Linked DNA regions of Homo sapiens. The protein of the gene in region 1 purifies or fractionates together with the protein of each later gene. This does not show direct contact. Each region holds a gene or a part of one and is shown on either strand. Other genes may lie near its edges.

Region 1 (5,718 bases):
TGTTTACCAAGGGAAAAGTAGGTTAGTCAAGTACTAGAGGGCGATGAAGCAGTAGAGGATGGAGTAGGAATCATCCCACAGTGTAATTGAAGACTCTGAGGTCTTTATTACACTACTGTCAGGATGTAGGAAATCAGTTTTTAAATGTTTTCCGTGTATATAATATGCACAAGCCTGTAACATTGTATGTCCCAAGACTTACAAGCGTCTTAACTCTGGATCCATAGATGTGGTTTCAGGGTAGGGTCTGTGAGCTTCAGGAATCACATGTAAAGATTAGTGTGAATATTCTTATATAGATTTTTCCTGGAAGATATCTGACTTAGTACCTCAAAGGGGCCACTGACCCCTAGAAAGGTTAAGAACTGCCATGTAGAAATTCCATGGCCATCTTCCATTTTTGGGTAAACTATTTTCTTTTTTTTTTTTTTTCTGAGACAGAGTCTTGCTTTGTTGCCCAGGCTGGAGTATAGTGGCACAATTTCGGCTCACTGCAACCTCCACCTCTGGGGTTCAAGTGATTCACCTGCCTCAGCCTCCTGAGTAGCTGGGATTACAGACAGCCGCCACTACGCCTGGCTAATTTTTGTATTTTTAGTAGAGACAAGGTTTTGCCATGTTGGCCAGGCTGGTTTAGAGCTCCTGACCTCAAGTGATCTGCCTGCCTCGGCCTCCCAAAGTGCTGGGATTACAGGCGTGAGCCACCGCACCCAGCCAGGTAAACCATTTTCTTTCCTATTGTTCTGATTTACATGGTTTTTCTACATTCTTCTGCCAACTTATCATTTGGGCTATAAATAATGATTACCTCTGCCCCAGAAATACATTGATTGCTTTAAAGAATGATTCTTAACAGAAGGTGTACATCAGATTCAAATGAGAGTGTTCCAACAAAATTATATTGCCTTCTTCCTCCTCCCTCCTCCAAACTACACCTTTACGCTAAACCTATAGAATTAGAATCTCTGGAGTTGAAAACTGGAAATTAGTATTTTAAAAAATTTTTTCATGATTTTGTTTATGAACCACTGGGCTAAAGTATTCATATGCTTCCAAAGTAGGAATGAGAGGCCTTGGGAACTTGGAATTGGGATGGGAGTGTATTTGTGAAAGAACCAGATGAAGTGGGTCTTAGCACTCTCTCCTGAAGTCTTAGATGTACCTTATTGTTACTCTCAAAGTATACATTAGGCCAGGGTGACAGTTCCTGAGGTAAGCAAACTTAGGAGTCTCTGCTTAACTTAGGAAGAATTTGGACACTCTTCCCTCAAGACATAAGTAGCATAGGCCAACAATTCTAGCATTTGAACTATCTGCACAGGGTAGAGCCTACTCTTCCAGCTTCTCTAACTTGATCTCTTGACTTTGCTTTACAGACAGCAGTGGCCCTTCTAGCACTGTGTCCAGTGCTGGTCCTTCTTCCCCTACTACAGTAGATGGTAACTCCCAATTTGGCTTCAGTGATCAACCCTCCCTAAATTCACACGTGGCTGAAGAACATCAAGGCCTTGGGCTGCTCCAGGAGACCCCTGGGAGTGGAGCACAAGAGCTCTCCATAGAAGGGGAGCAAGAGCTTTTTGAACCAAATCAGTCCCCACAGGTGCCACCTATGGAAACCAGCCAGCCATACGAGGAGGTCAGCCAGCCATGTCAGGAGGTCCCTGACATCAGCCAGCCATGCCAGGACATTTCTGAGGCGCTCAGCCAGCCATGTCAGAAGGTCCCTGACATCAGCCAGCAATGCCAGGAGAACCATGACAATGGTAACCACACATGCCAGGAGGTCCCTCACATCAGCCAGCCATGCCAGAAGTCCAGCCAACTGTGCCAGAAAGTCTCTGAGGAAGTTTGCCAGCTATGTCTGGAGAACTCCGAGGAGGTCAGCCAGCCATGCCAGGGGGTCTCTGTGGAGGTTGGCAAGCTGGTCCATAAGTTCCATGTAGGGGTTGGTAGCTTGGTCCAGGAAACCCTTGTAGAAGTTGGCAGCCCAGCTGAAGAGATCCCTGAGGAGGTCATCCAGCCATACCAGGAGTTCTCTGTGGAGGTTGGCAGGCTGGCCCAGGAGACTTCTGCGATCAATCTGTTATCTCAGGGCATCCCTGAGATTGATAAACCATCCCAAGAGTTCCCTGAGGAGATTGATCTGCAGGCCCAGGAGGTCCCTGAGGAGATAAATTAGAAGTCCTGGGTGGTCCCTGAAGTGATTGATCAGCTGCCTGGAGAGGGTATTCCTCAAGCCCAGCATCCATCTGGTGATCCAAACCCTCAGAGCCAGTCTCTAGCCCATGACCAGCACTCACCCCTTCCACCAGCAACATGTGATTAATTTTCTCATTAGTGGTATCACACTATACCAGCCATTTGAGCCAGCAACCTTTTCTGTTGGCTAACTCACTGGCCAGCTCTCACCAGCGGTGTCTGGGGAAGTAGTTCTCTTTGTATGAAGCATACCTGTGCCAGAGCTGTGGTTGAGGAGGAGCCAGTTTTAGGTTCGAAGAAGCCATTGGCTCCTCACTTAGCCATTAGACTTGAATAGGATTTCCTTGGGGTGGGTTGGTCTGTCATTACCCAGCCTTCTCTGAGCATCCTAGGAAATCACAGATTGTTAAAGGAAATGCCGCTTCACTGCTGAAGACACCATCTGGCGACAGCAAATGCAAAAGAGGGGACTCTAGGGTCTTCACTTTTCTGGGGAAATGTTCACGACTTCTCAAGGTACGCTTAGACCATATGTGCATTCAGGGGACTCTTGTCTTTGCCAGCACTCCTCAGGTGAGCCCGGGATGGCTATCTGAAATGTCTGGAAAATAGAGTCCCTTCCCCAAACATCTGACATGGCCACTAAATCTTTAGACTTGCCTTATAGATCCTTCCATATCATCCCCAAGTGCCCCTTCTGCCTCAGTCCTGTTCCTCTGGGCAATAGCTCTAGGGAAAAGTAGGTATTAGACTGCTGTGCAAAATTCAGAGCAACTACTTAAAATGCTCTAGAGGATTCTTAGCCAGTCTGTGAAAGTGGGCCTCCTCTGTGGTGGGGCTGTTTGGCTTAGGAGATGCTGTAGTAGTAGAGATAATCAGGTTCTATTTTAAGCAATCAGCAGAGATCAATATTGTACAGATACAAGCAAAGGTTTAATAAATATATATATATATATTTATTTCTGTAGTTGTGCCAGGGACAGACTGGCCAAAGACCAAACACTGCAGGGTCCCCAAGAAATTTGTCCTTATATCATTGTGTCTGAGGGCCAGATATGATTATGAAGCTTTTTCCAAAGATCCAGGGATGGGAATGGGAGTGGGTAGGAGGGGTAATGCGGTCATTGGAGTCGGGGGCTGGAACATTATGAGTGCTCAATAAATATAAACTAATGAGAATGGTGGTGATGGATGATGGTGATGTCCTTGTGAATTCAAGAATGAATATAGGCTGGGCACGGTGGCTTACACCTGTAATCCCAGCACTTTGGGAGGCCAAGGCGGGCAGATCATTTGAGGTCAGGAGTTGGAGACCAACCTGGCCAACATGGTGAAACCTTGTCTCTACTAAAAACACAAAAATTAGCCAGGCATGGTGGTGGACACCTGTAATCCCAGCTATTCGGGAGGCTGAGACAGGAGAATCACTTGAACCCTGGAGGCAGAGGTTGCAGTGAGCCAAAATCACGCCACTGCCCTCCAGCCTGGGCAAAAATGCAAGACTCTGTCTCAAAAAAAAAAAAAAAGGAATACGACTATGAGTCAATTGTGTCTGTAACTGATTAATCTGAATCGGTCAAAAGCCATTATAGTTGAGCAGGAATGGGCTGTAAAAATACAGAGATCAGGCATCCAAAAATAGACTATAAAAATATAGAGATCAGCTGGGCGTGGTGGCTCACATCTGTCTGTAATCCTAGCACTTTGGGAGGCCGAGGTGGGTGGATCATGAGGTCAAGAGATTGAGACTATCCTGGCCAACATGGTGAAACCCCATCTCTACTAAAAATATAAAAATTAGCTGGGCATGGTGGCACATGCCTGTAATCCCAGCTACTCGGGAGGCTGAAGCAGGAGAATTGCTTGAATCCAGGAGGTGGAGGTTGCAGTGAGCCAAGATCGCGCCACTGCACTCCAGCCTGGTGACAGAATGAGACTCTGTCTCCAAAAAAAAAAAAAAAAAAGAGAGATCAGGCATCCCAAGAGGAGCCTATGGCAGTTAACCCACTATCTCAAAAGGTATTTATTTATTTATTTAGAGACAGAGTCTCGCTCTGTCACCCAGGCTACAGTGCAGTGGTGCGATCTCAGCTCACTGCAACTGCCGCCTCCTGGGTTCAAGCGATTCTCCTGCCTTAGCCTCCTGAGTAGCTGGGATTACAGATGCCCGTCACCACACCCAGCTAATTTTTTTTGTATTTTTAGTAGAGACGGGGTTTCGCCGTGTTGGCCAGGCTGGTCTCGAACTCCTGACCTCAGGTGATCTGCCCGCCTCGGCCTCCCAAAGTGCTGGGATTACAGGTGTGAGCCACCACGCCCGGTCCCCAAAAGGTCTTTATTGAGTAAGTAGAGTGTTGGATGGGGGACTGGAAAGAGGTTCCCTCTCTGTGAAGCACCAGAGGGTACATGCCTTCTCACCAAGTTCTTGGAATCATCCTGTTAATTTTTCACTCTGATGGAGTGTCAGGAGGAGTTTATATAAAGGGGCTATGCCCTTTCTCTGCTCCTTTGACATCTTTACCATGAGAGAGCCCAGAACAGTGGGAGGGCTAGAATATGCCCCTCCCCAAATATACACATTCATAACCTGGCCACTTCTGACATACTTAGGACTATAAAGGGTTTCCATGGAGGAGGAAAGTCGACCGTTTTACTCCATGGAAATCCTGACTGCACAAGGAGAGTTGTTTCCAACCTCATTAGGCTCTGGATCTCTTAGGGTCCTTCAGCTTTTTACCCCTTTAGCCCAAGAGGCTGTCCAGGGTAGCTGATCCTGGTTATTTGGTCCTCAACTCTTGACCCCACGGAATGCATATCCCCTTCCCAGGAGGCCTTCTGCCCCTCTTCCCTCCCCCAGACCAGATGTATGTATCCACCCTAGGCTCCTATTCTTCATACTCAGGCACAAGTGTTTCCAGTAATCAAAAGCATTGGAGTCTTCCAAGATAAATTCAATACTGGTTGAAGCAGAGAGGTAGAAGCCAGGGCCCAGTAACTAAGCATGTATGGAGTCAGAAAAAGCCTAAGCAGCACTACACTATCTGCAATGAACTTGGTTTATTGTTAGAGTTGGAGGTGGCTCCGTTACAGCAGCTGGGAACTATAGCAGGGAAGCGTGGGGAGGAGCAGAACACAGCAGCACGGGGAGGGTGGAGCTAGGAAGAACACAAGGTGGGCTCATTTTGGTTTCCCAGTCGTTTGGCAGAGAAGGCAAGCCCACATGACTACCAGCTTCTGGGTTTCTCAGTCTGGCAGTAGTCTGGCAGGGCTGCTCACTGGCTTGCTTGGGGCGAGGTCCTCTCCTGGGGTGGTATTTTCAGCCCGTTTTCATTTCACTCTGTAGGAGTTAAGCTGTGGCTCAGCTTCTCCCTTTTTCCTTCCTCCATCTCATTTTCCCCAAGTCCTCTGGCCTGGCTTCCACCTCCCAGATCCTCTGTCCAAGAGCGGGTTTGGAGAGGCAGCCAGTGTTCCCATTTCAGCTGCAGGATGGCATAGTGGAATGTTGGGGGAGTCACACAT
Region 2 (6,601 bases), on another chromosome or scaffold:
TGGGGGGAAGAACAAAGGCTGGTGCACCCCCACAGGGTGGGAGACAGCTGGGGAAGCCCTCCTGGAAGGGTCAGGAATGGCTGCTCCAGCCCTCGGGGCTCTGAAGACAGACCTGCCCCCCCGCTCCCCTCAGCCTGGTGACTTTCCCCATAGTCTCAGTTTCCTCCTTGGGAAACCGAGGGCGACACTCCCCACCTCATTACAAAGGCTGTGGGGATTAGGGGAGATCATGGATAAAAACCAGCCAGGCCGAGGCGGGGCCCATGCAACACACGCCAGATATGGGTCTGGAGACTCTTACATCACTCATCCTACCTGGGAGCCCTAGGCTAACTCGGAATTTTTTGGACGGGGGCGGGTGGGACAGAGTCTGGCTCTGTCGCCCAGGCTGGAGTGTAGTGGCACGATCCTGGCTCACTGCAGCCTCAAACTCTCAGGCTCATCACTCAGACTTTGAAGCCATCCAGTGTTCAAATTCAGATGCAGCATTTTTGAGCTGTGTGTGAATTTGAATGAAGGATGTGTCCTCTCTAAACCTCAGTTTCCAGCCCTGGAAAATGCGGCTTTTAACCCATCACCTAGAAGTGTTCTGAGTGTGAAATCACATAATGCATCTTCCGTGTTTCTCAGAGCGGGGTGTTCTACGAAGGGGTTCCCTCCCTGCCCCAAGGGTCCCAGGAAAGGGACTGAGACTCTTAGCAACTCAAAGCCAAACAGCCTATTAGTGGCAGAAACTGGGTTTCTGGAGCCCTGGATGTCCCACTTTTCACTGGACAACACCACCATCCCCATCATCAGTTGGTCAGTCAACAAACATGTATTAAGCACAGGTCTTAAATAGGGCAGAGTTTGAATCACACCTGTAACATTTTCAGGCCAGGTGGCTCCAGCAAGCAACCTTTCAGGGTCTCAGTGTCTTTAGCTAACGGGGACAGAAATAGTGCTTCCTACATAAGGTGCCTGGGAGTCATCCACAAGTTCATGTGGCATGCAGAGGGTTTAATGTGAACCCCAGCTGGGCACAGCAGTGGCTCAAGCCTGTAAATCCAGCAGTTTGAGAGGCCCAGGCAAGAGGATCACTTGAGTCCAGGAGTTTGAGACTAGCCTGGGTAACATTGTGAAACACTGTCTCTACAACAAATTAAAAAATCAGCCAGGCTTGGTGGTATGTGCCTGTAGTCCCAGCTACTTAGGAGGCTGAGGCAGGAGGATCACTTGAGCCCAGGAGGTTGAGCTGCAGTGAGCTGTAAGCATGCCATTGCACTCCAGCCTGTGTGACAGAGCAAGGCTATGTCTAAAACAAACAAACAAACAAAAAACAGAACATGGACCTTGAAACACTGCATGCTCAATATTTTAGCCACTATCAGCTTCTGTTGGGCAAATGGCTTCCCCTCTCCAAGCTGTGGGAAAAAGAGGGTGATAATCCCTACCTCACAACCTTATGTGGATGGGGAGGGGGTCAATAAGATCATATTGGAAAGAAATTTAGAACAGCACCCAGCAGAGAAAGCAGGTACTCACTAAGTGCTAATGATCTTTATTAAGGCCCAATGTGCTTCCTGTCTGGAATTCTAGAATCTTCTCTCTCACATTCATTTCTTAGGCCCCAAAAGTCTGGCTCCCTGGCCACCACCTTAGCTCAGGCCCTACCACTTTTTCTCCTGAACTTTCTGAATAATCTTCCTAGTGCAATGGCTAGGACCTGGGGTCTGCAGTCACAGTGACCTGGTTTCAAGTTCTAGCTTAGCTGGTTCCTAGTTGTGGGGCTTATGTTCAAATCCTGCCCCCTAGTCTGAGGCTCAGCTTCCCCACCTGCAGAGCGGGGATGACAGCAGATACCTTACAAGGTTGCTGGGAGCGCTCAGAGTATTTATTAAAAGGCAAAGAGTGGCCGGATGCAGTGGCTCACCCCTGTAATCCCAGCACTTTGAGAGGCTGAGTTGGGCAGATCACTTGAGCTCAGAGGTTCGAGCTCTGACAAACATGGTGAAACCCCAACTCTACTAAAAATACAAAAATTAGCTGGGCCTGGTGGCAGGCGCCTGTAGTCCCAGCTACTCAGGAGGCTGAGGCAAGAGAGTTGCTTGATCCCAGGAGGTGAAGGCTGCAGTAAGCCAAGATCATGCTGCTGCACTGCAGCCTGGGCAACAGAGTGAGACCCTGTCTCAAAAAATATATATAAATGAATAAAAGGCAACTAGTGGATCCATGTTTTGGATGTCATCCTGATGTCTGTGGCCTTGGGTGAGATGTGGGGGAGTGGATCATGTAGAGGCCTCTTTTCCAGGGCTAGTAAAGGTGTTTGAGGATTTGGAAAGGGCCAGTGCAGACTGGAGAAGACACCAACCCCATGCAGGGTCCGACAGCCCTCGATTCAAATTCCACACCTGCCACCACAAGCTGAGGGACCCTGAGCCAGCCACTGCTTATCTCAGAGCCTCGATCTCCAAGTAGGAGTGGGACTTCACAAAAATATTCTAATCTTCCGCTTTGTGAACCTCAGAGGGGTGGATGTTGGAGCAAAGCTGTGAGACCCCACCAGTCTAAGCTAGAGTTTGGAGCATGACTCTGGAACCAGCTGCCTGGGTTCAAATCCTGGCGTGATTCCTTCATGGCTGTGGGTCACTTAACATCCTGAACATCAGGTGATATCAGCAGTCCCTGGCCCAGAGGGAAGCTGATAACTCACACGCCACACTTAGAACAGTGCTTGGCACATCACGAGTGCTCGATTAAATATTTGCTAGCCTCCTCTTATTATTATTTTTCATTATGATTGTCCATATTCCTTGTCAATCTCTCTAATCCTGTTTGCTCTTTTGTTCAATGAAATTAATAACCCCTTGGCTGCCCATTAGAACCTCCTTGGAAGCTTATTAAAAATACCAATGTTCATGTCACAGCCCCAGAGAGCTCGACTGAAAGTTCTGGGGTGGGGCTCCGTCACTGGTATTTTCTAAGAATTCCCCAAATGATTCTACCATAGAGGTGGGGTTAAGAACCACTGCTCTACCCCATCCGTTTGCTGTAAAGAGTTTTAAAAATGCAACGAACCTCCAATGCTTAGCACAGACGTGGGAAGACTACCATAGTCAACCTAAGTATCATCAATCTCTTCTCAATGGGTTTTTGTATTGTTTCGTTTTGTTTGAGACAGGGTCTTGATTTGTTACCCAGGCTGGAGTACAGTAGCGCCATCACAGCTCACTGCAGCCTCCACCTTCAGGGCTCAGGTGATTCTCCCACCTCAGCCTCCCAAGTAACTGGGACTACAAGAGTGTGCCACCATGCCCAGCTAATTTATTGTATTTTTTTTTTTTTTGCAGGGATGGGGTTTTGCCATGCCCAGGATGGTCCCGAACTCCTGGGCTCAAGCAATCCACCCACCTCAGCCTCTCAAAGTACTGAGATTACAGGCATGAACCACCATTCCCAGCCCCATCTCAATCTTAAGAGGCACCACAGCAAAGTGAGAAGACAGACTACCTGGCTCTGTCAGGTCTAATTGTGTGACCTTGAACTCTCTGTGCCTCAGTTTTCTTACCTGTAAAATGAGGATCAGATGCTTTATAATTCTGAAAATGTACAGAGGCAATGTATTTTAGAAAGCTTGGAAGAATGGTTGGTAAATGTTTAATAAATGTTCATTTTTATTGTTATTAACTCTCTCTGGGCCTCATTTGCCTCTTAGGTAAAATGGTAATAATAATAGACTCTATCTTTCCTATGGTGAGATTGAATGAATTAATAGATAGGCATTTAGCACAGAGCCTAGCATAAGGTTTTTGCTTTTTGTCTTTTTTTGAGACAGGGTCTTGTGCTGTCACCCAGGCTGGAGTGCAGTGGTATCATCATAGCTCACTGCAGCCTTGACCTCCCGGGCTCAAGTGATCCTCCTGCCTCAGTCTTCCTAGAAGGTGAGACTAAAGGCACGGGCCACCACCACACCTGGCTAATTTATCTTTTTTTAAGAGATAGGGTCTCGTTTTGTTGCCCAGGCTGGTCTTGAACCTCAAGCAACACATTTCTATACTCAGTGATTCACATTAATGATTGTCACACATCTGTTTCCGTTCCTTAAAACTCGGGATGAGCTATATCTGAGAAATTGGAACGTTTTATACTTTAGGAAAATAATACAGTTTATCTACCATATGTATCATGCAATGTCCCCAGTAGGTTCCGAGGCTGTCCTAGTAATCCAACAATTCATAATTTGGCAACCATGTAAGTGTAGGAACAGTCACGGGACATGGGATACAGATGATAAACAGCCTCAAGTTAATGCAGGGGAGCCGGGTGGTGGACCTGGTTCCCCAACCGGCAGCAACTCCGCCGCACGCGCCCCCCAGCAGGAGCCCACTCACGTAGATGAGGCCGGAGTAGTACCGCTCCCGGAGGTTGTGCAGGACCGAGGCCTCGTTGAGGCAGGTCAGCTCGGCCATGTCCTCGGCCTTGCTGAACTTGGGCGGGTTCATGCGCTGGATCTGGTCCCGCGGCAGTCGCAGCCGCCTCCCGCTCTCCGCCAGCTCCACCTCCGCCTCCTCCTCGCCTTCGTCCCGCAGCGCCGCCGCCTCGAACCCGTGAAGCTCCGAAGGCACCCACACGAGACGCCGGGCCGTCCACTCCACCTGCGGGGAGGTGCCCGAGCCAGGCCCGCCACCCGCGCTGGGCCCGCGGGGCGTGAACAGGAACGGCTGGGCCGCCTCGGGCACTGGGCCCGGCCTGGGGGGCGCCTTCCGCCCGGGCACCGACATGGTCACGGCTGCCATGGTCTGCAGGGGCAAAGAAAGAGGGTGGGGGTCAGATGGGGCTCCGTCCCCCGGGCCTCCCTTCCCTACCCCAAATTCCCCAGGCAGCCACCTCTGCCTTCCTTTACCAGACCTCTTGCCATACTTCTGCAAAGTGGGTTAACAGACCCAGCTTACTCATTTCATTCATTCACCTCTCTAGGCACTCATTCATTCTTTAATAAGCTAGGCTGTGAACCAGGCTCAGAGGGTCAGTTCTTTTTTTTTTTTTTTTTTTTTTTTTTTTTTTTGAGACGGAGTCTCGCTTGTTGCCCAGGCTGGAGTGCAATGGCGTGATCTCAGCTCACTGCAACCTCGGCATCCAGGGTTCAAGTGATTCTCCTGCCTCAGCCTCCCAAGTAGCTGGGATTACAGGCGTCTGCCACCACGCCCAGCTAATTTTTGTATTTTTAGTAGAGACAGGGTTTCACCATGTTGGCCAGGCTGGTCTCGAACTCCTGACCTCAGGTGATCTGCCTGCCTCGGCCTCCCAAAGTGCTGGGATTATAGGCATGAGCTACCACACCCGGCCCCGGCTAATTATTTTCTTTTTTTTTTTTTTTTGAGATGGAGTCTCACTGTGTCGCCCAGGCTGGAGTGCAGTGGCACGATCTCGGCTCACTGCAAGCTCCGCCTCCTGGGTTCACGCCATTCTCCTGCCTCAGCCTCCTGAGTAGCTGGGACTACAGGCGCCTGCCACCATACCCGGCTATTGTTTTCTATTTTTAGTAGAGACAGCGTTTCACTGTGTTATCCAGGTTGGTCTCGATCCCCTGACCTGGTGATCTGCCCGCCTCGGCCTCCCAAAGTGCTGGGATTACAGGTGTGAGCCACCGCGCCTGGCCAATTATTTTCAATTTTTGTAGAAATTAGGGTCTCACTATGTTGTCCAGGCAGGTCTTGAACTCCTGACCTCAGGTGATCCACCCTCTTCAGCCTCCCAAAGTGCTGGGATTGCAGGCGTGAGCCACCACTCCTGGCCAGGCTCAGTTCTGGGCACTGACAATGGAGCAACAGACAAGCTGGAAGAAGACGCCTGCCTCCAAAAGTTTACTTTCTAGCCCCGGGCTGTCCACTGCAGAAGCCACCACCACCTGTGCACTACCGGGTACTTGCAATGTGGCATGTGTCACTGAGGAAACACATTTTCAATTTCATTCATTTAAATTCAATCTATTTTATTTTATTTTGAGATGAGGTTTCACTCCGTTGCTCAGGCTGGAGTGCAGTGGTACAACCACGGCTCACCACATCCTTGACTTCCCAGCCTCAGGTGATTCATGTCTGAAATTTATTAATTAAAAAATAAATGTATTAACAGGCATGCCACCATGCCTACTAATTTTTAAATTTGTTTTGTAGAGACAGGGTCTTCTATGTTGCCCAGACTGGTCTCAAACTCCTGGGCTCAAGCGATCCTCCTGCCTTGGCTCCCCAAAGTACTGGGATTACAGGTGTGAGCCACCGAGCCCCATCTTAAAATTTAAATATAAATATCCCCATCTGGAGTTCTAAGTGTAAGATACACACCAGATTTCCAAGACTTAGTACAACAAAAAGATAGTTTGCTGAGATTTTAAATATTTGATGACATGCTGAAATGATAATATTTTCAATCTACTGGGTTAAATAAAATATATCATTAAATTAATGTTACCCGTTCCTTTTTTACTTTTATCATTAAATGTGGCTACTAGAAAATGTTACATTACACATCTGGCCTGTATTATATTGCTATTTGACAGAGCTGCTGTAATCCCAGGAGACAGATAAAAAGATTAAAAATGTAAATTAGATAGTATGGTTTT
Region 3 (6,601 bases), on another chromosome or scaffold:
TTGCCCATGTCTCCTCTTTGAAACACATTCTCCTTGGCATCCTTGACGTCTGTCCCTCCAGGTTCTCCTTCAGTCCCGCCAGCAGCCCTTTTCTCAAGTTTCCTTCTTGGGCGGGTTCCTCTGCCTCTACTCACTGCTTATAAGTAATGCTCACAACTCTTTCCTTGGGTCTTCTCTATTCTTTCTAGGTCCTTTCCTGAGTAACTTCTGCCGTAATCATGGCTTCAGTGCTGACAGTTCCCGCATCCATATCGCCCTAGCCCAGACCACTCTGAACTCCAGATTCACATACCCAGCTGCCTACTGGGCTCCTCCACTTGGATATCCTATAGGAACATAAAACTCCAGATGTCCCCTTAACTCATCTTCTGTCTTTCCAAATCTGCTCTCTCTCCTGTGTCCCATTTTTCTGAAGGGTGCCATATCACCCCAGTTATCCCCAGTAGAAACCTGGAAGGTATTCTAGATACCTCCCTTTATTCTGTTCATCAATTACTAGATATCTCATAAGCACTCTGTTAGACATGGAGTATACACAGACATGAGACAAATAGCATACACTAAGAAATAGACATAATCTAGGTTTGGCAATACAGAGGACCACAGGGAAAACGCTTGGTGGGGAATGAGAAGGATAGCAAACTGTACCAGCTTGAAAAGTGAACAGTGAAACCAGGCACTGTGGCTTACGCCTATAATCCCAGCATTTTGGGAGATCGAGGTGGGTGGATCACACGGTCAGGAGTGCAAGACCAGCCTGGCCAAGATGGTGAAACCCCATCTCTGCTAAAAACTACAAAAATTAGCCAGGCATGGTGGCAGACACCTGCAATCCCAGCTACTCGGGAGGCTGAGGCAGGAGAATTGCTTGAACCCGGGCAGCACAGGTTGCAGTGAGCTGAGATCATGCCACTGCACTCCAGTCTGGGTGACAGAGTGAGACTCCATCTCAAAAAAAAAAAAAAAAAAAGAAAAGTGAACAAGGAAAATACATAATAAAATCCCATGTAGGCTGGGCATGGTGGCTTACACCTATAATCCCAGCACTTTGTCAGGTGAGGCAGGAGGATCACTTGAGGCCAGGAGTTTGAGACCAGCCTGGGCAACATAGTGAGACCCTTTACAAAAAAATTTAAAAATTAGCTAGGTGAGGCCAGGCGTGGTGGCTCACGCCTGTAATCCCAGCACTTTGGGAGGCTGAGGCAGGCGAATTACTAGGTCAGGAGTTCGAGACCAGCCTGGCCAACGTGGTGAAACCCCGTCTCTACTAAAATACAAAAAAAAAATTAGCTGGGTGTAGTGGCGGGCACCTGTAATCCCAGCTACTCAGGAGGCTGAGGCAGGAGAATCGTATGACCCTGGGAGGTGGAGGCTGCAGTGAGCCAAGATCATGTCACTGCACTCCAGCCTGGGCAACAGAGTGAGACTCCGTCTCAAACAAAAAAAAAAATTAGCCACTGTGGTAGCATGTACCTGTGGTCCCAGCTACTCAGGAGGCTGAGAAGGAAGGATTGTTTGAGCCCACGAGGTCAAGGCTGCAGTGAGTCGTGATCGCACTATTGCACTCCAGCCTCGGCAACAGAGTGAGACCCTATCTCAAAAAAACCCCAAAATCCCATTTATATCAATTTCAGAAACAGGTAAAATTAAACAGTCTTGCCTAGGAGTGAATACATAGATAGGAAAACTATAAAGCAAAGCAAAGACATGATATTATGAATGTCAGAGTAGCGGCTACTTCTCTGGGGAGTGAAAGGCTATGACCAGGGAAGGTCGCATGGGAACCCTGAGGCCCCCTGCAGTGTCCTGATTCTTGACCTGGATACTGGTTACATAGTGTATAGCCCAGTAGTGTGTAGATTTCACACTGATAATAAAAAGTTAAAGTTTACAACCTTCCAGATATCGTCTCCATGTCTTGTCCAAAAAGGTAAATGGGAGCTATGGAAGGGGAACTAGTGTTTTCAACTGCTGTTTAAAGACTGCTGGTTCTAAAGGGATGGCGAGAAAGAATAGGTTAAGGGGAACTGGACATTATATTGAAATGAGAGTATTTTAAATGGAAGAGACATGAGTTTGCAAGCTGAGGGGAAGTAGATAATAGGGAGATTTTGAAACGACACAGTTGATGGTACAATTTTCAGAAGGTGTGAGAGGAGGCGGCATCCACATTCGGGGGCAGATGTGTGTTGTAGGCATGCAGGTGGGATGGGCATGGGAGCCGCTAGGAGAGCATGTTGGCAGAATGACAGTTCCCATCTGAGGTCTCAGTTTCCAGTGTCTTCACTGAAGTGGGAAGGAAGACTGAGAGAGATACACGCTGTGCGTGCCAAGTGATTTCCTGTGACATTGACATTGGGCCTCATTGAGAGAGACTCGGTAGTTCTGTTCATTCAACAGTTTCTAAGCACTTAATTTGTTAGCACTGGGCTAGGCAAACAAAGATAGCTGGGGCTTATGTGCAAGTTGGAGAGATCTTCAGTGTAACGTGTAACTTTTGAGATTACAGTCAGCAGCACGCTACAGTTAGGGATTCCTGAGTGACTTAGTCACATGGGCTCTAGACTTTAGTGTGGAGCTGCATTAAAGGTTTCCAAGCCACCACTTTTGAGGTTATGGTACTGATAGGATGTCCCAAGCAACTTCAGCCCAGGCCTGAGAAGGCCGCGGACCTGTCATGTCTTTGCTCTTGGTTCCATTGCATTTGCTGCTTTGTAATTTAACTATGACTGTGTTTTTCCAGGCAGCCAGCTCCAATTCGAGGATTTTGGATTGTACCTGACATTCTGGGACCCACGATGATCTGCATCACCAGTACCTATGAATGCCTCATATGGCCGTTATTGTACGTCCCATTTTATATTCTCCACACAGCTCTTGTTAATTCTGCAATATCTAAGTTGGGAAAATGCACTCAGTAACCAACTTGAAGCTATACATGTGTGGTTTATACTTTGGCTTCTGACTTGAGGGTTGGAAGGATGGATATTTCTGTTCCTGCCATCATCTCTATAAGGTTTCATTGTAGGTATAGTTTCTGGCATCCCCTGCACCTAGCTGAGAGTCAGGAGCTTTTCTTCAGAGTGTGGAGAAAAAATACTAAAATTGAATACCAAATTCCATTATCGATATGAGTAATAATTATCAAGCTGTGACCATACGCCAAGCTCAGAAGTAAGCCACGTACCCGCACTGCCTCCTGGAATCATCAGGGCAGCCCTGTAAGGAAGGCACTGTCATTTCCATTTTATAAAAGTGGAAACGGGGATCGAGAGGTTAGTAAATGCTGAAGTCACAGGTAACAAATAGAGCTGGGATACAGATGCAGGTCTCATTGACTCAGAAGTCCATACTCATACTCTTTAATTTCTCCATCTCTGCCAGCCTGAGGGACACTGTAGACTATGTAAACTGGAATAAAGCTGAACTCAGGCTGGGTGCAGTGGTGGTTCATGCCTGTAATCCCAATGCTTTGGGAGGCCCAGAGTTCGAGATCAGCCTGGGCAAAACAGTGAGACCCCCATCTCTACAAAAAACAAAAAAATTAGCCAGGCATGGTGGTACACATCTGTAGTCCTAGCTGCTCAGGTGAGAGGATTGCTTAAGCCCAGGAGTTTTAGGCTGCAGTGAACCATGATCATGCCACTGCACTACAGCCTGGGTAACAGAGCAAGACCCTGTGTCTTTTAAAAAAAAAAACAAAAAAGCTGAACTCTTAGTCTTTGCTCCTTTAAGGAACTCAGATAATTAAGCTGTAATCACTATGTTCCTTTTCCAACAGCCCTGGAAGATCATTCTGAGTTACATAAATGTAGGAATATGAGTACCAAAAACAAAAGTCACTGGAGCTTCAAACACTAGACAACACCCCCACCCCTTGTCCGTTCAAAGCTTGCACCTCTGGATGCTGACATAAATTCCTAATACTGGCAGTAGTTTACTGTCCTTAGAGGATCTTCCATAGTCTTTGAAGCTTGATTAAGTTGTACTATCTGGATGTAAAAATAAATATAAATTTTGTGTTATTTACACTGAAGGCACTAAAAGCTAGCAAGACCAAACAAAAATAATAAAATCACTGGAGAAAAAATTACCTGTAAGTTACCTCAGCATACTTTTTAAACACCCACAGTACATTTAGTAAAATAAAACCTAGTCACACTAGCTTACTTCAGAATAAATATGAATCCCAAAGGGGAAAAATAAACATTAATTGTCTGGATATTTTTTTTTTTTTTTTTTGAGACGGAGTTTGCTGTGTTGCCCAAGCTGGAGGGCAGTGGCACGATCTCAGCTCACTGCAACCTCTGCCTCCCGGGTTCAAGTGATTCTCCTGCCTCAGCCTCCCTAGTAGCTGGGATTACAGGCGCACACCACATGCCCAGCTAATTTTTATATTTTTAGTAGAGATGAGGTTTTGCCATGTTGGCCAGGCTGGTCCTGAACTCCTGACCTCAGGTGATCCACCCACCTCGGCCTCCCAAAGTGCTGGGATTACAGGCATGAGCCACCGTGCCAGGCCAATTATCTGGATACTTTCAGATCATATTTCTGCCAACTCCCTGAAATACAAGTTGTCTATAAAGTTATGCTATTTCATGAACTTTCACTTTTTTTTTTTTTTTTTTTTGAGACAGAGTCTTGCTCTGTCACCCAGGCTGGAGTGCAGTGGTGTGATCTCAGCTCACTGCAACCTCCGCCTCCTGGGTTCAGGCGATTCTCATGCCTCAGCCACCCAAGTAGCTGGGATTACAGATGTGTGCCACCACACCCAGCTGATTTTTATATTTTTAGTAGAGACAGTTTTACCACGTTGGCCAGGCTTGTCTTGAACGCCTGACCTCAAGTGATCCACCTGCCTCGGCCTCCCAAAGTGCTGGGATTACAGGCGTGAGCCACCACGCCCAACCAAACATTCACGTTAGAATTGTTGCCTTCAGAGTAAGTCACTTGCCATGCTGCCGAAGTCTGTGAGATCTTTTAAGCTCTTTTTGAAGTTTGAGTATTTGCACTTGACTGAATAGTTTTTAGAAATGAAATTATATAGAACCAATATGGTATATACAGCAGTTTCTTGGCTTAATATTGGTTTTGATCAACTCTAAACCTAACAAATAAGTAATTTATGTTTGTGGCTCCGGCTTATAAACTGGCTTTCAAGTCCTTTGCCAAGAATCCATGCTAGGTGTTTGTGCTGCCTTGATCTTTTAGAAAAGAACTGGAAATGGCAGTCAGAAATGCTTTCACAAATCAGGGGCATTGGAATAATAAGGGTGTAGCTTCCCAAAGTGACCTTTTCAAGGTGGAAAACATGCATTCTTGCACTTTTACAAAAGTTACACTTTATTTTATATTCTGAAAGTTCTGGATTAATGTGGTTTCTGCTTTCCTGTAATACAGTAAATCACTCCATGGTAGAATTCAATTTACTTACTTATTTTGCAGAAGTACAGTCCATCCAGCGTCTCCTCCCCTGCTTTGTACTCGAGAAGATGTTGAAGTGGCAGAGTCTCCCCTCCGTGTTCTGGCTGAAACCCCAGATTCCTTTGAAAAGCATATTAGAAGCATTTTGCAACGTAGTGTTGCCAATCCAGCATTTTTGAAGTATGCAACCTTGGGCATAGCGGTTTTATGAATGGGTTCTCTTCTGTCTTCAGAATTACTGTGCATCCTTTCTGTCCTCATCTGTTTCATATACTTTTTACTGTGATAAATTTGGAAGAAACTGGATATATTTGATCAGCTAGTGAATGGGGAGCAGGAGGGAAGTGGCACCTGAGAATGATAAACAGGAAGTGTTTAAAAAGAAGTTAGGCTAGGCCGGGCGTGGTGGCTCACACCTGTAATCTCAGCACTTTGGGAGACCAAGACGGGTGAATCGCGAGGTCAGGAGATCGAGACCATCCTGGCTAACACAGCAAAACCCCATCTCTACTAAAAATACAAAAAAAAATTAGCTGGGTGTGGTGGCAGATGCCTGTAATCCCAGCTACTTGGGAGGCTGAGGCAGGAGAACCGCTTGAACCTGGGAGGCAGAGGTTGCAGTGAGCTGAGATCCCACCACTGCACTCCAGCCTGGGCGACAGTGAGACTCGTCTCAAGTTAGGCTGGGCACGGTGGCTTACAGCTGTAATCCCAGCACTTTGGGAGGCCCAGGCAGGCGGATCACCTAAGGTCAGGAGTTCAAAACCAGCCCGGCCAACATGGTGAAACCCTGTCTCTACTAAAAATGCAATAATTAGCCAGGCGTGGTGGTGGGCACCTGTAATCCCAGCTACTCGAGAGGCTGAGGCAGAAGAATTGCTCGAACCTGGGAGGTGGAGGTTGCAGTGAGCCGAGATAGCACCAATGCACTCCAGCCTGGGTGACAGAGCGAGACTGCATCTCAAATAAATAAATTAAAAATATAAAAAGTTTAAAAAGCACCTGTGACTTGAGTCTATTTATTTTCAGTTGTTTTACTCAGCTAAGGAAAATAAAGGTAGAAACTTTGTTTTTAAGAGCTTCTGAAAAGGACATAGCCCCTCCTCCTGAAGAATGCCTTCAGCTCCTCAGCAGAGCCACCCAGGTGTTCAGAGAGCAGTACATTCTCAAACAGGAC
Region 4 (6,601 bases), on another chromosome or scaffold:
ATGGATATGGATTATCTGTCATGCATACAGTGAAGGGTATGGTCAGGATTTTTTTGGAAGTAGAAAAACATACCAAACAGTTTCACATCTTTTACCATCCATAGCCCCTGAGGAGCATCTACTGCCATCAGAAAAACATGCAAATAATACTGCAGTGCCCTCCAAGGGTCTTAGGCCCAACTGAAGGTTTAGAAACATTCAAATTTATAAACTGCCACACTTGGCATCAGATTCACTTAAAAGGATATAGAATGGGAAGCACTGCTTACTAGCAAGGCAGAACCAGTTGCTCTTCTCTGAAAGTCTCTGCAGCTGTCTGTGTGGCATAGTGCAGGTGCAAGGAGACAGATCTACATGGGGCAAGTATGGAAGCTTCCCCGGCTTAAGAGCCCCTTGTCCCACAGGAACAAGTATCTCTTATAACAGCTTCATAGACATGGCCTCCAGTGTCCCTATAAAAGACATGCCTGTTCCAAGCGTCACTGTACTTAGGGATGCCCAGAGCTGAGGCTTCCTATCAGGCATTTATAGTTCTCCCAGTCCAGATGCAGTTTACCAATTGGGCATCATGTCTACCATATGTAACATTGCCTAGCAGTTGACATATGAATTTTTATTAGGTTGCCAGGGGAACAGAGCTAGAAAGTTAACAAAGGTAAAATTCTCATGCAGAAGGGAAAGAGGCTTTGTTAATACTTTGCCAAACACTATGCTAAGCAATTGCATAACAGATATTACACCTAATTCCTATAGAATATAGCCAGAGGAATTTCCTAGTAAAATATAACCCACCCTAACTCATTTTTCCTTTCTTGAATAGTGTTGTTGGTGCTTAGTTGCTTGTGATTAATAGACAGTTTGCAAATTTTGGTAAGGTGTGTGTAAGAGTTGGCTTAACAGTCAAAATGATCCTAGCCAAAATATCATGTATCCTTTGGTGTCACTCATAATAGGTGAGTATAGTATGTCGTACTGTAGGGACATTATTGAATGGACATGTCTGAGTATTCCATCAGTCATATTTTGATGGGAGCCTTTGGCCATCTGGCAAACACCAAACACAGGCTCTTGGTAACCGTGCCTTTTTTTTTTTTTTTTTTTTTTTAAAGATGGAGTTTCACTCTTGTTGCCAGGCTGGAGTGCAGTGGTGCAATCTCGGCTCACCACAACCTCCGCCTCCTGGATTGAAGCGATTCTCCTGTCTCAGCCTCCTGAGTAGCTGGGATTACAGGCGCCCGCCACCACGCCCGGCTAATTTTTGTATTTTTAGTAGAGATAGGGTTTCACCATGTTGGTCAGGCTGATCTCGGCCTGACCTCAGGCAATCCGCCTCTGCCTCCCAAAGTGCTGGGATTACAGGCGTGAGTCACTGCGTCCGGCCTGCTCTTGGAAACCGTGCCTCTTATTCCTGTGTCATGTGGTGCTACTCTTGCCTGCTTCTGTTGCTCCCAGCAGATCAATGAGTGAAGATGGCTGGTTACTCATTCAGTAGTTATCAAACAATTATTTATGGAGTCTTTACTGTATGTCAAGCACGAAGGGTACTTCAGTGAACCAGCACCATCCCTGCCCTCAAGGATCCTGCAGTGTGTAATCACAGAGACTGGCAGTTATAACACGGCATGTTGGGTGTGACAACAGGGACAAGCACAGGGTACTCTGAGAACGCGTGGGTCGGGTACCTAGCCAGTCATAGAGCCTCAGAGACGCTTTCTGTCTAAGCTACTCTTCCTATCCAGTAAACTTCCAGCTTTGGCATACTATATTTATAAGCAGTTTAAACAGTTGCTGAAATTTATTGCCTTTTCTCAAACATGGTGGCTTTGGTCACTAACAGTGTTTAAATTATGTGTTTTATTCAGTTATGCAAAAATATATACTATACATAGAATATCAGAATGTTGTAGTCTTTAGGAAATATGCATCAGGTTTGTTTTTTTTGTTTTTTTGACAGACTCTCACTCTGTCGCCAGGCTGGAGTGCAGTGGCGCGATCTTGGCTCACTGCAACCTCCGTATCCCAGGTTCAAGTGATTCCCCTGCCTCAGCCTCCCGAGTAGCTGGCACTACAGGCGTGTGCCACCACGCCCAGCTAATTTTTTGTATTTTATAAGAGATGGCGTGTCACCATGTTGACCAGGATGGTCTTGATCTCCTGACCTCGTGATCTGCCTGCCTCAGCCTCCCAAAGTGCTGGGATTACAGGCGTGAGCCACTGTGCCTGACTGGGTGGTTTTCTTTTTTAAAAAATAATATGGTTTTCTGGCCGGGAGCAGTGGCTCATGCCTGTAATCCCAGCACTTTGGGAGGTCAACGGGGGTGGATCACCTGAGGTCAGGAGTTAAAGACCAGCCTGGCCAACATGGTGAAACTCCGTCTCTACTAAAAATACAAAACAGGAGAATCGCTTGAACTCGGGAGGTAGAGGTTGCAGTGAGCTGAGATAATGCCACTGCACTCCAGCCTGGGCGACGGAGTGAGACTCCATCTCAAAAAAATAAAAAATAATAATAATATGGTTTTCTTATTTAAAAAATAATATAGTATGTAAATTATTTTTCAAGTAAAAATGAAATGACAACAACAGATAACTTCCCATTATGTTGATCCAGTGTACTGTGACAGATGGGGAGGAGCCCCACTGCATCTGGAGTGGGTCTTGGCTGGCCATGTGAACTAATTAATACCCCAGAAATCAGGATACATGCCAGGCGTCGGGGCTTACGCCTGTAATCCCAGCATTTTGGGAGGCTAAGGTGGGTGGATCCCTTGAGGTCAGGAGTTTGAGACCAGCCTGACCAACATGGTGAAACCCCATCTCTACTAAAAATATACAAAATTAGCCTGTAATTCCAGCTACTTGGGAAGCTGAGGAAGGAGAATTGCTTGAGCCCAGGAGGTGGAGGTTGCAGTGAGCTGAGATCACACCACTGCACTTCAGCCTGGGCAACGAGAGCAAAACTCCATCTCAAAAAAAAAAAAAAAAAAAAAAAAGAAATCAGGATACATATAGGACAGAACCATTAAATCAAGAGATTTGAAAGTTAGAAGGGACAGGAGAGATAGTCTAGTCCAACTCCATGTGACAGATGAAATGACGTTTCTAGTTCTCACACAGCTGGTTAGGATCAGAAACCAGGTCCTGCCAGGCCAGTCCTGATAATAGACAGACATGTTTGGGCAGGCAGAAAAGACCATTCATAGATAACATTTGTTTCCCTGGGTATCCATCAGACCAGAGGCACAGGAGAGGAAAATGCTGTTTTGGCCTCATATGATAAAGTATGCATTGTGTGATTATGGTCTGCATTCTTGCAATGCTTAGACAGGGAGGGGGAAATCACATTTTGAGCATGGGGGAGTTAATTTCTTTGTCCTGTAATACCACACATATCTAAAACATAAACCACCATGGAACACACTCACACTCACATACACACAAAAGGCAAATTAAAATATTTATTGTCCACTTAATATGTGTTCTGTGTTTGATTGTAATGTATTCATTTTACTTATAAAAAATTTCAAAAGTAAAAATATATATATTATTAACTTGAAGTGATTTTTTCCAACCTCGCTGATTTTTTTCCTTCTTTCTTTTTTGAGACAGAGTTCCACTCTGTCACCCAGGCTGGAGTGCAGTGGTGCAATCTCGGCCCACTGCAATCTCCGCCTCCAGAGTTCAAAGAGTTCTCATGCCTCAGCCTCCTGAGTAGCTGGGATTACAGAGGTATGCCACCATGCCCGGCTAATTTTTGTATTTTTAGAAGAGATGGGGTTTCATTTTGGTCAGGCTGGTCTCGAACTCCTAACCTCAGGTGATACACCCGCCTCAGCCTTCCAAAGTGCTGAGATTACAGGTGTGAGCCACCATGTCCGGCCTCTAACTGATTTTTGAAATATAAATTGGGTGTGATTCAGGGAATGTAACAAGAACAATCTTATTTGAAACAGAAAACCACATATTTTTAAGTCAGCAGCCCACATGATAAGATGGTATTGAGTAAAAATGTATTCTTAGGTATTTCTTGACTCAGTGGATTTTAATCAGTCTACTGCAAAAGCTAGTTTTATTTAAAGGGCTGCAATTATATATAAGAATTATTAGAAAAACAGATTAGCCACTTAATCTAAAAATACCTAGATGCAGTATTCCTGGTTTTTAATGAAATATTTATCTAGTTTGGGATTAAAATTAACTTAGGGCCATCAAAAATGCAAATTATCTTTAATTTGGTTAAATCAACCTGGGAGTAAATGGAAATAATCTCAAGCTAAATTTTTGTTTTGATTTATATACAGTCAGATTGAAACACCCTAGTTACAAGTTTAGAATAGGAGTGGCCTCAACAAAGGAAAAAGTCCTTTGTTCCTCTGTTGCTCATTTTGTCCTCGGAAACAAATACAATTTAACTATTTTCTGTACCGTCCCAAATTTGAAGCTGACCTGAATTTGGTACCTATAAATTTAAAATGGCTAAGGTTAAAATAGTTAAAACAGTTTCTTTAGAATGAGTTGTTAGCTGGGTGTGGTAGTGTACACCTGTAGTCCCAGCTACTCCAAAGGCTGAGGCAGGAGGATTGCTTGAGCCCAGAAGTTCAAAGCTGCAGTGAACTAGGATCATGTCACCACACTCCAGCGTGGGCAACAGAATGAGACCCTGTCTCAAAAAAAAAGGTTTTTTTTTAATTGAATGAATGCAATAAGGAATTGAGGATCGTCTCACATTAATGAGTGAATAACCCTTCATAATTTTAGTTACTGTTTTTCTCAGGGCAATTATTTTATATAAAATTCTAATGGAGAATTTTATGGACAAGATTTTAGTTAAGGAAAAAAATAACCCCACAAAATAAAGAGAACTATTAGAGCTCTAAACAGAAGAAGCTTCCATCAAACCGTTTTTCCCACTTTTTTGTCCCACGGTCTTAGGACCAACAATTTAGTAATACGAGACAATTTCTGGCAGACTATCCCAAGCTGGGACATTTTAGATTCTGTGAAAGAAGACTGACTACTGTCTGATGAATGGGTAATTGATGATGCAATGTATGAAAAAAGTAAGGCAGACAACTCAAAAATCACAGGAAGTGCAGCCATTCTACGTGCCGAGCTCTACAGTTACACACTGTCCAACAGCTCTCGGAAGAAAAACAGAAACTGACTTTATCTTTGCCTGCCAAGTTTGCAAATGGATTAGTTCATTACAAAGGCACTTGTCAAAACATATTTATTAAAAAGAGGAGCCAGAGTTGGAAATCATCTTGACCATTAAAAAAATAGCAACTGATACCTTGTTTAACAAGTAAGACAGTTTCTGCTTTTTGGAATTGAATTGGTTTTTAAGTGGTAATGTACCAGGTCTGTTTATATAGGTCAGTGTTGCCCAGGTTGTATTGTTTTGCTGTTTTTACTTTTTTATATATAAAGAACTAAAATTACGAGAGAATAAATTCGTGGATATAATCTAAATCTGATTTCTCCTTTCAGTTGTTTGGCATTCCATTTTTTATATAAATCTTTAAGACATATGTGCATATTTTTATTTTAAAAATTATTTCTGCTTAAACAACAGTTTCAAATATTTCTCTTTTGAAGACAAAATTGGTTTAGTTTCAGCAATGTATTGATATAATTTTACATTTTTTTAAATGTTGAGGCTGGGTTTATTTAAGATTAGCTGGGCTCGCTGCCTGCTCTTAAGAAAAACATGTATAGCCTATAAATTTTTAAAGGATTCCCATAATAATATAGAACTGCTAACACTAAATATGTTTCCATCTGTTTAAAGACTCATTAACTTCATTTAGTAATAGGAAAAAAAGCTACTAGGTAGAACAGGGGTTAGGCTAAATCCTGCTTGCTGCCTGTTTTTTTGGTAAATAAAGTTATATTGGAAGACAGGCACATCCATTCCTTTTTGTCATTGTTTATGCCATCAATGACAAAGGTGAGTGGTTGCTACAGACACCTTTATCCACAAAGCCTAACATATTTACTATCTGGCCCTTCACAGAGAATTGCCTACCTATGATGTTGGGTGGGACAGGAGATCTTTTATTCCTTATGTAGGGATGATGGAGGTAGAATAAGTCCCTACTTTGGACCAATCTGTGAGCATCACTAGGATTTAAACATGTCTGGTATGTATGAAGGTCAGTGGAGCGGGCACCGCTGATCTGTATGAAGTTTTTTTAGAGAAGTCACTAGAAGGATCTGGCCAGGAGAAAGATGGTCACTTGGCTCAGCTCCAAGGAAGTATGCCTAAGCCTTCCGTTTGAGAGCTACATGCAGAAACTGAGCATGATCTATAATCTTGGTGAGATGCTAGGAGTTCAAACTGTACTGCTTTTTTTTTTTTTATTTAAATACTGCTGCAATGCTTTAAACACCTGATGCCAGGTAGGAGGGCAGGGGCATTGCCCTGCACTTCCGCAATACTGCATGTCCTCAGGGTGTTCTCAGTACAGGTGTGGCCCAGGCAGGAGCAAGAGAGGTTGAGTCCCTGCTGGATGGGCTCTAAGGGTTAACACTAGAGGCAGCTGGGATTTCAGTTTTCCTGACACCTACAATTCAGCACCAAACCTCACAGAGGGAATCC
Region 5 (6,601 bases), on another chromosome or scaffold:
TGAATTGTAGTGTTAAGTTACAGCATTTGTGAAATTAGATTTATAGAGACTATTCTGTTATTCAGCCTGGTTAGGAAATGATATAGTCTGCTTCATTATATAGGCAACTTTTTTTTTAAACTTCCCTAAAAGCCTAGCACGTCTCAGTGACTATTCCAAGAAGATAATTGATCTCTGTGACTGTTATAATTTTGGAGGGGGAAATACTACTTTTTTATAGTCTATTTTGACATATAAAGACTGATACTTATTTCAGAATCTGGTTAACTTTGGGAGGTTTTATAGCTGTATGACCTGAAATTCTAAATTGCTCAAAATTAATAGTTAACTAAAACATGTATTTTTAAGCAGCACGTTTCAATAGACTTGAAAATAATGGTTGTCCTACCTACCTCTTTCCTCTTCTGTACCTGTTCTGCTGCCACCTCTATGGACCTTCACTGTGGAAAAATCAACATGCAGGTTTTGGGAACTCTAAGGAAGTAAAAGAGACATCAGATAGCATAAATTAATGAAAGGAACACTAGCTTTGGAGTCAGAGACCTGGGTTTGAGTCCCATGTTTCAAATTACTAGCTCTATAGTTTTAGACAAGTTACAAAATCTAGCTGGAATGCAATTCTCATCTGCAAAATGCAGCTAGTTCCCGTGAGTTAAATGAGATAATACATGTAAAGTGCCTGCCATATGGTGTATATATTCAGTAAATGGCAGCTATTGTTATTGCCTATTTTGATAGTGTATTATAAATAAAAACTAGGGGACATCAGACTGATCTGCACAGTCTATACAGTGCTTAGTTCCTGCCCATTTTTTAATATTGCCTCCATTTTTTAATATTGCCTCCATTTTTTTTATTTGCCTCTTCAAATGCCCCAAAACTTTATGAATTCATTTGTATTAATACTTTCCGAAATGAATATGTCAAACAGGATTATGGTTCTGTTAGAAATTAACACATTAGTCTGAAATGGCATATACCATTTGCTTTCTTACAACTAAAATTTAGTGACAAATGGAGTCAGTATTGAGCAATAGAAAGTTTGAATATGGAAAGAAGGAAATAATCTTGGACTTAGGGCAAGCAAATAAAAGATACCCAGCTAAGAACTTGTATCAGCAAGGAAATAGTAATAGGGACCTATAGAGACAGGATCCAGGTGTCGTGAAAGATGGAGCAAGAGAAATTGGTTGCCAGTGTAGAACAGCTACCAATAGCCAAAATCAAATGTTGATTACTTGAAGCTGGATTAACCAGTTGCATAATATATATTGCATGGATGGACAACAAGAATACATTAGTGCATTTGGGAGAAAACTAATGAGGGAAAACCGTGACAGCTTCTGCCTACCCGAATGTCCCAAGAGGGTAGACTCCATTATCTTGGAGCACTATTCAGTGTTGACCTGCCCTTCCGCTGCTTCCCTTTTTCCAAACATCTTATTTAAGCAGTGGAGGCTGGCCCGTAAAAGGAATGGGATTACGTACGGATGGGAGGGAAGTTTTAAGTGAAGCCTGGAATTTACTGAGTGTTAAGGCTCTTGGAGCCTCAGGAAGTCATCCTTTTCTTTCGAGACTCCTCTGTATTCATGTCCCAAGTTGTCTTCTGAAACACACATAAACACGCAGTTCCTTTACTATCATGTTAACTTTTGGGACCTTATTAATCCAATGAGGACCATTATTCTCCTAGTTTTATTTTAACTGTGGTTTGGGGTTGACTGTAACCTCCTTTTTTTCTACCTTGTAATTCAGGTTAATCTTTAGGTAGGGCTCTGTCCTAAACTCAGGAAGAAGCCTTTTTGAACTTCTCCAAATTGCAAATCATTCTGTTTTCAAGAGGTGCTATTGGTATCTCAGATCTGCAGTGTGATATTTAGAAAGGTTATTGCGCACCAACCAGCCCAATAACTTAATGAGGTTTCTCTGGGAAGTAGTTTATTAAAAACTGTAGAAGGAATTTGCTTGGAGTCAAATATACCTAGGTTCAAATATCATCTGTCACTTAATAGTTAACATTTACTGGCCCAGACAAGGTTCTCAGTGTTTTGGGGAGAAGGAGAGAAGAGAGACAAGCCAACTACAAGTGATAAATATACTAGCTCCTTTGATTCTCTCAGTGGGATATGTATTATTACCCTTTTTGCAGTTTTGAAAACAGGCATAGATATTAAATAACTTGCCCAAGTTTACTAACCTGGCAAGTAACTGTGCCAGGGATTCTAACACAGGAAGTCTGCCTCTAGAGTCCTTGCTGTCCACCACTGTCTCTCTGAGGTAAATCTTTTAACTTTCACAACAACCCTAAGTGAGACTCACTTTACAAATAAGAAACTGTGGCAAAGAGGGTAATTTACCCAGCTCTGTTTGGGATTAAAATTTGGGCAGTCTGGCTCCAGAGTTTATGCTTCTAAATGCTTGCACTATACAGCCAGCCCCTTATTAATGACTTAACTTCAAATGAATTTATCATTTCTGAGTTTCTGTGTATCATAGAATTGTTGAGAGGATTCAATAAAGTATATATTCAGGGGTTATGTTTATGTTTAGTGAATACTAGATAAATAAGTGTCCCCTTTCTCTGTGGAAAAATGTTAATTTCTGAGCTCTAACTTAGAGGTGAACACAACTCACTTATTATCTCTTTAAACTGGTTATTTATGTGCCAGAGCAGTGTAATGAAACCTGATTTTTTTTTTCTTCTTCTGGGATCGGGAGTTTATACACCTTTACCAGAAACTGCCATTGTGAGTGCTTTCTTTTCTTACTGGCCAGGTCCCCTTAGGGGACATTTTTCTTTCCTAAGTCTATCTGGCAGTATCTGCTTTGCTATTTGGCCTTATTTATTCATTGTTTCTTCTCTGTAGTTACAGATGGAGCATGGGTTGAACCGCAGTTTATTTTCTCTGGCAGAGCACCTGTAGATGCTGTTTAATCCTGATCATATTTTTTTCTAGAGCCTCCTCTCCCTCCCGTGAGAGCTCACTTTTTGTAAAGGAAAAGTATGGCATTTTATACTTAGTTGCTGCACTGTGTTCATCTGTATGTATCACATTATGTTGACCATCTTTCTTCAAATTGAATTGAGTGTTAAACTTTCTTTATAGAAACAAGGGAAGCCATCCGTAAAAGGCTCAGTGCAGAAACATCCAGCTTGTTTGTGCTTCTTACCTTTTTTCATACACATAGGCTGTAGAAAATTCATGTAGAATTTTGTATAATACCATGTTGGGATGTTAAATCATGAAACAAGCATTTAAGTAGAGGAAAGCAAAGTTTTGGTATATGGATATAGATGTCATGAATAAAGAGATATTTCCCAATGAGAGATAACCATTTAGAAGCAAAACCCTCTGTACTTTTTTGTCTTAAGACTATTGAAAGATCTTTTACTGATTTTGAGGTTGCTGTAAACATTATGTCATGTTGTATGTTTTTAAATACTAATTGTTTCAGTACTATTGTTTTCTTTTTCTAGCTTGTCCACGTGGTGGTATTTTGTATCTATTATTCTTTCTACTCATTATTACTTTTCCTTTCCCTTAGAAATAATAGCAAAATAAAGGCTATAAAATGGCCACTTGTTTCATACTAAATGCCACTCAGAGGGTCTCAAATTACTTTGAGAAGACCTTTTTGCCTCTTCTTCCTCTCTAAAACCACCCATAAACAAGAGAATGAGAAAGAAATACAAATTCTATTTTGAAATTAGAAGACATCTGTAATCTTGGACCTCAGCATATGAAGATTGGCAGTAGATGGATGAGTTGGTAACTGACTTAGAGCAGAGCGGTTATGTCTGAGTGCCTGTCTAGGAGTGTGCCTGTAAGAAGCAAGTGCATTTCCTCTGCAAAATTATGAAAAAAAAAAAAAACTCAACAATGGGAAGCACTAGGTAATACAGAAGGCAAGAGGCTGAAAACTAGAAGTTAAAAGTGTTAGGAGTAATTAATAATTCTTATCTACTACAGCTCAGCCAGGTGACTACCTCTGCAAGAAACAGGAGGGGTCTTCTTGGAGGTGGGAGGTGGCAGAGAACAGGCCTCTCTGCTTCTGGAACACTAAGCACAGAGGAGGTGGGATGTGAGCCTGAAAATGGAAGCTAGTAAGTCTGTACAGTAAACTGAGACCCCTTCTACCTGCTCTTTTCTCTTGTTTACAGTTAGACTTATTGCCCTCCCAGCTGGAGGATCTTTCTCCAGAGAACCAGAAAAGACCCAGAAAAAATATTTCAGATATTAGCATTTGGTTTCTTGTCAGGCTTGTCACACATTCACCTTAGGGAGAAGCTCACTAGTCAAGCCTGCTATATGAGTTTCTTAGAACTGCTGTAACATGACTACAAACTGGGTCACTTAAAACAACAGAAATTTATTCTCTCAGAGATCTGGAGGCTAGAAGTCTGAAATTAGTGTCAGCAGGGCCATGCTCCCTCCCTCTGAAGACTGTAGGGAAGAATTCTTCCTTGCCTTGTCCTAGTTTCTGGTGGCATCTGTCAATCCTTGGCATTCTTTGGCTTATATAGCAGTGTCACTCTGTCTTCACATTTCCTTCACTTTGTGCCTGTGTGGTCCTTATTAAGGCACCAGTTATTGGATCTAGGGCCTACCTTAATCTAGTATGATGTCATCTTAACTCATTACATCTGTGAAGACCTACGTCCAAATAAAGTCAAATTTATGGTCAGGTGGACTTGAATTTTGGGGGACATTCCAAAATTCAGCCCACTACAGACCACTGCTCCCCTCCACACACACGCTTGCTCATACTTGTGCAATGGCTTCTATATGTTTTTGTACTGCATACTTATTTTTTTTAATGTTTTTCTCCCCCCAACCCCATACTGCATACTTACTAAATATGAGTAGATAGCCAAGGATCACCATTAGTGCTTAGCACATAATGAGCATTCCATAAGTGATAGCTGCTGTTATATTGAATATTACCAAGTTACTGTATTAATATTCCAGATTTAAAGAAAATGTTGCTTTTAATTTACATACTTTTAGTATTTCCATCTTAGCAATAACTAGGAATGTATACATTTCAGTAGTTTGATTTCTTTATTAAATTTAATTGTTTTTGAGAGGATAACATTTATTAACTAAAAAACCAGTCCAGAACTGAATGTATCTTCCTCTTCTTATGTAGTAGTCCCAAAAATGTGTTCAGTATCGTATAACCTCTCAAGATACTCTGAGTAAAAATGGATTCTGCTACAAAGGATGATTTGGAGGTGCTGCATATTATTATATTCCCTCTGATAAGGGCTGTAAGATACCTTGTGCTTAAGAATTAAGAATCCTTTTAATCAAGCATTTTCCTAAATGTATTTAACTACAGGACTTCTTATCCCAATATAAGAACTTTGCACATCCCATAGAACTGATATCCAAAATATGCTTTAGAAAAAGCTTCATAGAAACTGGAAACCATCATTCTTAGCAAACTATCGCAAGGACAAAAAACCAAACACCTCATGTTCTCACTCATAGGTGGGAATCGAACAATGAGAACACTTGGACACAGGAAGGGGAACATCACACACCGGGGCCTGTTGTGGGGTGGCGGAGGGGAGGGATAGCATTAGGAGATGTACCTAATGTAAATGACGAGTTAATGGGTGCAGCACACCAACATGGCACATGTATACATATGTAACAAACCTGCACGTTGTACACATGTACCCTAGAACTTAAAGTATAATAAAAAATATATATAAAAATAATAAAATTTAAAAAGCTTCATAGAATAACAGGTTTAATGATGATAATGTTGAGTACATATTGAATTGTAAAGAATCTGGGTGATGATTTAAGGTCATATATTGCCTTGACTTGATGTTTAGTGTTTTGCATGTTTTTATATTAGTAAAGAATAATTATCAATAAAAATAATGATTTTTAGATATCATTGGAGGATATATATGGTAACATAAATTGCTAAGATATTTCTGTGCTCTTTCTCATGTAGGACAAAACTTTCGGTTTGAAGAATAAGAAAGGAGCAAAGCAACAGAAGTTTATCAAGGCTGTCACACATCAAGTTAAATTTGGTCAACAAAATCCACGTCAGGTAAGTAATTTAAATGTCCATATCTTTTTATAAATGTAATATTAATATAGCCTCTGTTTCAGATAAAATGTCTGGTATTATTATATAATTGTATTTCAAAACAGAATCCTACTTGAAATGTTTTTGCACCTTGGCCTTCCTTACCAGCAGTACCTCTTGGATATTGTCCAAGCCATTTTGATATAACTCTCATTTATTCTAATAATGATTGCATGCCGTTCTACAGTACAGGTGTGTTATATTCATCTATTTCACTGTTCATAAGTGATCACTTTGTTTCCAGCTTTCTGACACTAAGACCACCTGTAGAAATACAGGAGTTCTTACATGTGTTTATGCTTTTATTTCTGTGGCATAAATTAGCTGGTAACAGACTCCAGATCAAGGGAAATGGATTTCTAATTTTAACATTATAAATTTGCCAGATCACTTTCCATAGAGGCTGTAGTACTTCACATTTTCATTTGTAGTACATGAGCAATAGATACTAAAGTTCTTTTTAATGTGTTACAATCTGATAAGTATA

What was found.
Region 2: the proteins of PPIP5K1 (region 1) and MYH14 purify together in Homo sapiens (affinity purification with mass spectrometry; one large-scale study listed by BioGRID and IntAct). This does not show direct contact.
Region 3: the proteins of PPIP5K1 (region 1) and NUP88 purify together in Homo sapiens (co-immunoprecipitation; one large-scale study listed by IntAct). This does not show direct contact.
Region 4: the proteins of PPIP5K1 (region 1) and ZBTB8B fractionate together in Homo sapiens (co-fractionation; one large-scale study listed by BioGRID). This does not show direct contact.
Region 5: the proteins of PPIP5K1 (region 1) and ZC3H15 fractionate together in Homo sapiens (co-fractionation; one large-scale study listed by BioGRID). This does not show direct contact.

The regions. Positions count from the first base shown.
Region 1 is NC_000015.10:43,531,135-43,536,852, reverse strand, and holds the end of PPIP5K1 (inositol hexakisphosphate and diphosphoinositol-pentakisphosphate kinase 1), read left to right. Parts: intron 1-598; coding exon of another isoform or gene 599-718; intron 719-1,376; coding exon 1,377-2,179; 3' UTR 2,180-3,378; downstream 3,379-5,718. UniProt on the Homo sapiens protein: Bifunctional inositol kinase that acts in concert with the IP6K kinases IP6K1, IP6K2 and IP6K3 to synthesize the diphosphate group-containing inositol pyrophosphates diphosphoinositol pentakisphosphate, PP-InsP5, and bis-diphosphoinositol tetrakisphosphate, (PP)2-InsP4.
Region 2 is NC_000019.10:50,208,540-50,215,140, reverse strand, and holds part of MYH14 (myosin-14), read right to left. Parts: intron 4,779-6,601; 5' UTR 4,776-4,778; coding exon 4,371-4,775; intron 1-4,370. UniProt on the Homo sapiens protein: Cellular myosin that appears to play a role in cytokinesis, cell shape, and specialized functions such as secretion and capping.
Region 3 is NC_000017.11:5,387,805-5,394,405, reverse strand, and holds part of NUP88 (nuclear pore complex protein Nup88), read left to right. Parts: intron 1-2,743; coding exon 2,744-2,845; intron 2,846-5,445; coding exon 5,446-5,604; intron 5,605-6,453; coding exon of another isoform or gene 6,454-6,501; coding exon 6,502-6,601. UniProt on the Homo sapiens protein: Component of nuclear pore complex.
Region 4 is NC_000001.11:32,491,215-32,497,815, forward strand, and holds the end of ZBTB8B (zinc finger and BTB domain-containing protein 8B), read left to right. Parts: 3' UTR 1-5,472; downstream 5,473-6,601. UniProt on the Homo sapiens protein: May be involved in transcriptional regulation.
Region 5 is NC_000002.12:186,489,260-186,495,860, forward strand, and holds part of ZC3H15 (zinc finger CCCH domain-containing protein 15), read left to right. Parts: intron 1-5,973; coding exon 5,974-6,075; intron 6,076-6,601. UniProt on the Homo sapiens protein: Protects DRG1 from proteolytic degradation. Stimulates DRG1 GTPase activity likely by increasing the affinity for the potassium ions.